2 linked regions of the Homo sapiens genome follow. The protein of the gene in region 1 purifies or fractionates together with the protein of each later gene. This does not show direct contact. Each region holds a gene or a part of one and is shown in the gene's direction. Other genes may lie near its edges.

Region 1 (3,750 bases):
AGGGATGGAAAAGGAACCGTAGAATTTGCCAAATTGAGAGGGCGTCCGGGACTTCACAGCATTTTCAGAGGAGTGGTGGGGGTGGGTGCCAGATTGCTGTGGGCCAAGGAACGTGTGGGAGGTAAAGACAGGGCTGGCAGCCTGTCAACTTACTCTTTCAAGAAATATGATAGTGGGGGGAGGGGAAACGGGAAGATGGTGGAAGGAAGGGCTTTCTGGGGAGATGGAGGTTGGGAGCGACTTGAGCAGTTGTGAGCCAGAATGAAAGGAGAAGCGGAAGGCAGGAGTTTGAAGGCTTCAAAGCAAGGAGCCTGTCCCTAAGAGAGCTCCAGAGGGAGCTCCGAGGGACAGATGGAGAGTAGGGTTGGTGGGGGCTCAATGTGGCTGGACTTTTCCAGGCCTGTGCAATGGAAGAGGTGGAAGTGTTCATCTCTGTGGCCCCCAGCAGCTTAATAGTCTTTCCTTCTTCCCCTTTTCCTCTTCCTACCTTCCTCCCTTCCTCTCTAGCCACAAACATTTATTGAGCACATACTATGCACCAAGTCTTGTGCTAGGTTATGTTGCTATTATAATGAACAGGACAGTGTATATCATCCTTACAACTAAGTGAGGAGACAAATATTATACAAGAAGATGGACAAATGTGTGTAGGTCTACATATTGTATAATACTAACAATGGGTAATGTTCATTGGGCACTTTCAAGGTATCAAGACCTTTATAAGCATTTCTTAATAACCTTTTACCTAAAAATCCATCCCCTACATTAAAACTTACAAGATACTACTGATATTACCTTTTGCAGATCAGGAAACTGAGGCACAGAGGGATCAGATGACTGGCCAAAATCACACAACTTAGATTCACCTGTTTCCAGACGCAAGCACTTAACTGCCACACGGTCCTGACTATGTTGAGAGCTGCGGACACCAGTATGAACAAGACCTGCAGAGTGTCTAGGGCTGGGAAGAAGCCACGAATTCATTTACTGCCTTTTCCTCAAGGTGTGGTCCCTGGACCAGACATATCAGCGTCCCTGGGGAGGTAGTCAGACACGCAGGCTCTTCAGCCTACTGCGACCTACTAGACCGTGATGTGTAGTTTAAACAAGACCCGCAGGTGTCTGGTGTGTAGTTCAAGTTGGAGAAGTCTGGTCTAGAGCCCATTCCTCTTATTAGAAACAGGAAACCGAGGCCCAAGCATTTGAAGGTTATGGACGGTGGTAGAACTTTGGGGTTTGGTGAGTGGAGCCGGCCTAGGCCGGAATGGGCGCTTCCACTCTTGGCCCAGCAGGCCAGTGGGCAGGGCCGCGGGAAGGACGGGCGCTGCAGGGGCTCCGCGCGCTCAAGGTGCTCGCGGGCTCCCGGGCCCAGCCGGGCTGAGGTGGCGTGGGCGCCCTGCGGGCCGGGCCTCCGCGGCGCGTCCCAGTCCCAGTCTCCGCGCTGGTCTGGCCCGGTCCCTCAGCTCCACCCCCTGCCTCCCCCTCCCGCCCGCTCGCGCCTCCTGAAAAGCCAGCTCGCCCGGGGCGGCGGCGCAGAGCCGGGCCGGCGCACGAGGCAGCCAGCGCGGCCATGACGGCGGAGAAGGCGCTGCCCCTGGGCAATGGGAAGGCTGCTGAGGAGGCGCGGGAGTCCGAGGCGCCGGGTGGCGGCTGCAGCAGCGGGGGCGCGGCGCCCGCGCGCCACCCGCGCGTCAAGCGCGACAAGGCGGTCCACGAGCGCGGCCACTGGAACAACAAGGTGGAGTTCGTGCTGAGCGTGGCCGGGGAGATCATTGGGCTGGGCAACGTGTGGCGCTTCCCCTACCTGTGCTACAAGAACGGAGGAGGTGAGGTGATAGTGAGGAGAAGGGGAGGGGGCGCCAACCGCCCGGTGGGGGCGGGGAGCCAGGGGCGAGCGCGAGACCCCCTCCCGCGCCTGCGTGGAGCGGAACCCGAGCGGAGAACCTCGACTCCAGGCACCTCGCGTGTGAGCTCGCCCCGGAGCGCGGCCCACCTGTGCCAGTGCGCACGCGCACGTGCCAATTCGCACCTGAGGGTTCCACCTGCCAGCGCGGGGACTTGCCCGCGTTCTGTCCCCAGCATGAGATGCAGACCGAGGCCAGGGAGCCCTTGCTTTGGGTAGGCGCCCTGGTGTTTCGGGCACTTGGCCCCTTGGAGCCTCAGCTTTCCTAACTGGGAAAACGGCCTGTGGGGAAGGGACTCCTGATGATCAAAGTGGTCTCAGTTTTTGCGCGCTTACTGAAGTGCCGAGCACCTTTGACCATATCATCTCATCTCATCCTCTCAGTCACTTTCGTAGGCAGGGGTCTACCCATTTTGCAGGTGAGGACACTGAGGGTCAGAGAAGTCTCACTCGACCAAAAATAAAGATGAGATTCTGATGTCAAAGGCCCTATTTTAAACTGGGACTGGACTCACAACAGGGAGAACTTTTAGGCGAGGCATTGCTCTATGGTTTCCTGCCTAGTCTTTCGTCTGCTCTTAAGCCCATTTCTAGGGCCAATATTTGGGGCCCCTCTGGTGGAAGAATTGACAACGAACAGTTTATTTTACGGGTCTGAGAGTCACCCACGACAAACAGCAATACTGGTTTAATGTTGATGCTCTGCATAGAGATGTAGAAGGGGAGAGGGAAAGGACAGTGATGAGAGAGTCCTTTCTGGTGACAGCCTCTCAAAGTCAGTTTGGCAAAAGATGCAGCAGCGAATCCGTAACTCTCCCAGCTCAGGGAAGGGGCTCCAGCCTTCAGGACCCCCTCCTGTCATATCGGCAGGACAGCTGGGCGGGTCCATGGCAAGGGATCTTATAAAACCTCCTTCGGTGGCACAATTTCTCGAAGGAAGAGCCTGTATCTGTATATTCTCTCTTCTCTTTGCTGTGCCCCTGCCCCTCCAGCAAATTCCCAAACCCCAGCGAAGGTGGCTCAGAAGTTGGCTGGCAGGGACCGGGCTATGAGTCTGTGCAGAGCAGGACTTCCTGTGCGAGCAGCTGCCGGGAGAGGGAGAAGGGTACTGCTTGGCCCAGGCCCTTTCTTTGGGGACATTCATCCTGAAGGCACAGGCTGCTCCAAGCCTGCTCTGCACTGGTAATGAAGTGGCCGCTGGTGTTGGCGGCTTGGCAAGGGAGAGAGAGGGAGTGGACTTGGAGACCCCCAACGTGCCCTGTGCTCTCGGCTGTGAATCCTGCCTCTCTGCAGATACAGCGTTTGTAAGCTGCGTCCACTTGGAAACCTGTGCACACCTAGGGTAGTCCCCAGGCACAAATTGTTTTAACATCTTTTTTTTCCATACAGGAAATTGTTGTGCCAAAACAAAAAGCATTCATAAAAGCAGAAAACACGGTAAATTGGGTTAATTACAAATTCTGTCACAGATTTTTTTTTTTTTTTTTAAAAAAAAAGGTTGTAGTGAGTAAAGTTTTTTAAATGAGTCATTTTTTTTTTCTGACTAGCCAAGAGTTTTCTTGAGATTCATAGATCTCCTGGTTTGGTAGAGTTTATTGTCCTAAGGGTTAGTAGCTTTGTGAATACACAGGTCAAAAGGCTTTCTGAAAGTGTCATACGTTAGATTCTAGAGGTTTCACAGGTAAATAACAGCATGTTAGGGGACCTGCTGCAGCTGATTTTAATCACTTAGATTTCGATTCAGTAAACAGATCCTCTTATCTCCTTTTCCACACTTTTTGCTTTCTAATGTAGTTGGGATATCTGCTTCTCAACTGTTTACCTTTTTAAAAACATCCTTACTGCCC
Region 2 (3,650 bases), on another chromosome or scaffold:
GTACAGGTGCGCACCACCACGCCTGGCTAATTTTTTATATTCTTTAGTGGAGACAGGGTTTTGCCATGTTGGCCAGGCTGGTCTCGAACTCCTGACCTCAGTTGATCGCCTACCACGGCCTCCCAAAGTGTTAGGATTACAGCCGTGAGCCACTGCGCTTGACCATTTTTTTAGTCTTTTCTCATTGACTGACATTAGAACATTGGGAGAACATGAGGCACTGAAAAATAATACAGTACCCACAAAAGATAAGATATAAAATGAACTACTGAATGACAATTAGGAAATAACTTATGCTTTATAAACTAAATACATGTGATCTTTTCCAGTGAGCCACGTATTGTTAGTAGAATTTTCCAGTGTTGTGCTTGGAATGGTGGAGTGTTCTGGGTAAGTTCTTTAAATTCCAGGTGCCTTATAAGCATCTTCAGATTGTTGCTGGGTTGATAGCTATGAACTGTTTTCTTGAAACACTGAGACAAATAGTTTTCATCTGCTGATGTACACTTAGAAATATAACTCAGGAGTCTGTGCATCTGCAGAGATTTTATTCCCACTCAGGAAAGCACACTTATATGTAAGCAAACGTCACAGCCCTGAATATACACTTGAATTTTGTTTCTAAAATGACTCATTCACAAGTATTAGAGGTAGCAGTTTCTCTTGACACTGTCTAGACATTTTAAAATGCTAACAGCAACTATGGGGACTCGGGAAGGGCAGATACGGCTAGACAAGAACAAGGTTCTCCCTGCTTCTGCTTATAGTGATCAACAAGAGTTAATTTGCATTGAAACCTATAGCAGAAAAGATTGCCTACCATTTACTGAGAATCCCAGTGCAGGCTTAACTGAAATTTGGGTACTTTGAAGAATGGATAAATATTTCCTTTGACTTAGAATTTAGAGTAATTCATCACTTCTTAATCTAAACAATTCACAGATGTTTTCAGATGTTAGTTTTAAATTTAATTAATATGTATTCCTGTGTACTTAGTACATGCCTGTATTTTGGCCTGAATACTACTTGAAATGTTCCTGTATGCCCCCAAAAGTTTCATTGTTTTATAGGCAATATCAAGTTTGTATCTCTCAATTGGAGTGTTGGGAAATAGAAATGGATCCAGTTTTGGTGCTTTTTCAGGCCTCCTGATTTATTTTATTTATTTATTTATGTATTTATTTGAGATGGAGGCTCGCTCTGTTGCTCAGGCTGGAGTGCAGTGGCATGATCTTGGCTCACTGCAACCTCTGCCTCCCGGGTTCAAGCGATTCTCCTGCCTCAGCCTTCCCAGTAGCTGGGATTACAGGCATGCACCACCACACCCGACCAATTGTTGTATTTTTAGTAGAGACGGGGTTTCACCATCTTGGCCAGGCTGGTCTCGAACTCCTGACCTCAAGTGATCTGCCTGCCTTGGCCTCTCAAAGTGAACCACCGCGCATGAGCCACCGCGCCCGGCCTAGGCCTCCTGATTTATAAAAGTCACTCCCATCTATAAAATCATTACACTAAAAATTGAAGCTCCTGTTTTAAAGACTGGATTTTGATGTTTGCCTTGTTGCTTCTTTTCTTTAGTTCAGTCTCCTCTTGTTTTATCGAGTATTTATTCCTGTGCTTCAGTCGGTAACAGCCCGAATTATCGGTAAGTGTATACCCTGCTCCTTGTCTGTTGGGGACAGAGTGGGAGATGATGTTTCAGTCTCCCTCAGTTTACTGAACATTTCCTGTGTACCAGGAGCTTTCACTGTTTATTTTCTTTTTTGTTGTTTTATTCTTTTTAAAAATTTATATTTCGTTATTCTCCTAGAGGCCCTTTAAGAATGGGTACTGTTGTTCTATCCATTTTATGAATGAGGAAATGCAAGTTACCAAGGTTAAACCATTAGTAAGAGGCAAAGCTGAGATTTAAACCCAGATGGTATCCTGCAGATAGCGTACTGGTAATCACTGTGGCATCTCGTTACCATCATGTAAGCAGGTTTGTGTCAAGCAGCACATATCTATGGTTTCTTTGAATTGGAATTGTGGCCAGAATGTGGTGCGTCTATTATGAGTTAGACTCTTTGAGATAGGTATAGTGATGTGCTGGCAAGAACTAGAAAGATCCAGGAGGAGACAGAGAATAGTCACGAGATGGGGGTTCCGCATTTGGTCTTCTGGATTTCCATTTCTCCATTTCTAGTAACTCGTTTCCTCTTTCTTAGGTGACCCATCACTACATGGAGATGTTTGGTCGTGGCTGGAATTCTTCCTCACGTCAATTTTCAGTGCTCTTTGGGTGCTCCCCTTGTTTGTGCTTAGCAAAGTGGTGAATGCCATTTGGTTTCAGGTAGGTCCAGGGCAGAATGGAGTCTGGGTCCCGCAGCATGATTGGCTGACAGGTGACAAGTTTCAGCCTGTGAAGTTAGTGGGCATGTAGGGGGACCTGTTTTTCAGCCTTAATGTTTCTTGGCCAGGTAGCCAGTAGCTGATCTTTGTGTTCTTACAGAATGGAATTATTGTCTCAGCATCTCATTGGCAGGTGTCTGGTGCCTTTTCTTTTTCGTTTTGGCTTTTTTTTTTTTTTTTTTTTTTTTGAGACAGTCTCACTCTGTCGCCCAGGCTGGAGTGCACTGCAACCTTTGCCTCCCGGGTTCAAGCAATTCTCCTGCTTCAGCCTTCCAAGTAGCTGGGACTACAGGCACGTGCCACCATGCCTGGCTAATTTTTTTTGTATTTTTATTAGTGACAGGGTTTCACCATGTTGGCCAGGCTGGTCTCAAACTCCTGACCTGCTGATCTGCCTGCCTCGGCCTCCCAAAGTGCTGGGATTATAGGCGTGAGCCACGGCATAAGGCAGCAATCCTCCTACCTTAGCCTCCTGAGTAGCTGGGACTATAGGCACATGCCATCGTGCCCAGCTTATTTTTAAATAAGCCTTTTCTTAACTGGCAGCTCTAGTGGCGGACTAGTGGCCTTAGCTTTGGGGATGTATATCAAGGCCATTTAATTCATGTTTTGGTACACTTTCTCTGTTACAGGATATAGCTGACCTGGCATTTGAGGTATCAGGGAGGAAGCCTCACCCATTCCCTAGTGTCAGCAAAATAATTGCTGACATGCTCTTCAACCTTTTGCTGCAGGCTCTTTTCCTCATTCAGGTGAGACTGACCTTCTGGGCATATGGGCAGCTTTATTAAAAAGAAAAACTGTTTCACTAGAGAGAACTTCACAAAGACAGAGTATTATATTTATACAGAGTATTATATATATGCTGGTGGGAGGTAATGATTTTTAAATCTTTTTTTCCCCACGGAAATGAGAATTTTAAAATTACATTATAAAATTATAAGAAACATGAATTTACCTGCTTTTTTCTGCTACTCTGGTTATTCTCCAGTCCTGCCAGGTGGAAACTTTTTTTCTTTTTATAGTTATGCCTAATTTTTTTTTTTTTTTAAAGAGACAGACGGGTCGGCTGGGCGCAGTAGTTCATGCCTGTGATCCCAGCACTTTGGGAGGCCGAGGTGGGCGGATCACCTAAGGTCAGGCATTTGAGACCAGCCTGGCCAACATGGTGAAACCCCATCTCTACTAAAAATACAAAAATTAGCTGCGCGTGGTGGCAACATGCTTGTAATCCCAGCTACTCGGGAAGCTGAGGCAGG

The links. Proteins that work in one complex are often made in the same cells at the same time.
Region 2: the proteins of SLC6A11 (region 1) and EI24 purify together in Homo sapiens (affinity purification with mass spectrometry; one large-scale study listed by BioGRID and IntAct). This does not show direct contact.

What each region holds. Positions count from the first base shown.
Region 1 is NC_000003.12:10,814,696-10,818,445, forward strand, and holds the start of SLC6A11 (sodium- and chloride-dependent GABA transporter 3), read left to right. Parts: upstream 1-1,532; 5' UTR 1,533-1,570; coding exon 1,571-1,826; intron 1,827-3,750. UniProt on the Homo sapiens protein: Mediates sodium- and chloride-dependent transport of gamma-aminobutyric acid (GABA). Can also mediate transport of beta-alanine and to a lower extent that of taurine and hypotaurine.
Region 2 is NC_000011.10:125,575,926-125,579,575, forward strand, and holds part of EI24 (etoposide-induced protein 2.4 homolog), read left to right. Parts: intron 1-329; coding exon 330-390; intron 391-1,578; coding exon 1,579-1,645; intron 1,646-1,810; exon of another isoform or gene 1,811-1,981; intron 1,982-2,207; coding exon 2,208-2,332; intron 2,333-3,023; coding exon 3,024-3,143; intron 3,144-3,650. UniProt on the Homo sapiens protein: Acts as a negative growth regulator via p53-mediated apoptosis pathway. Regulates formation of degradative autolysosomes during autophagy.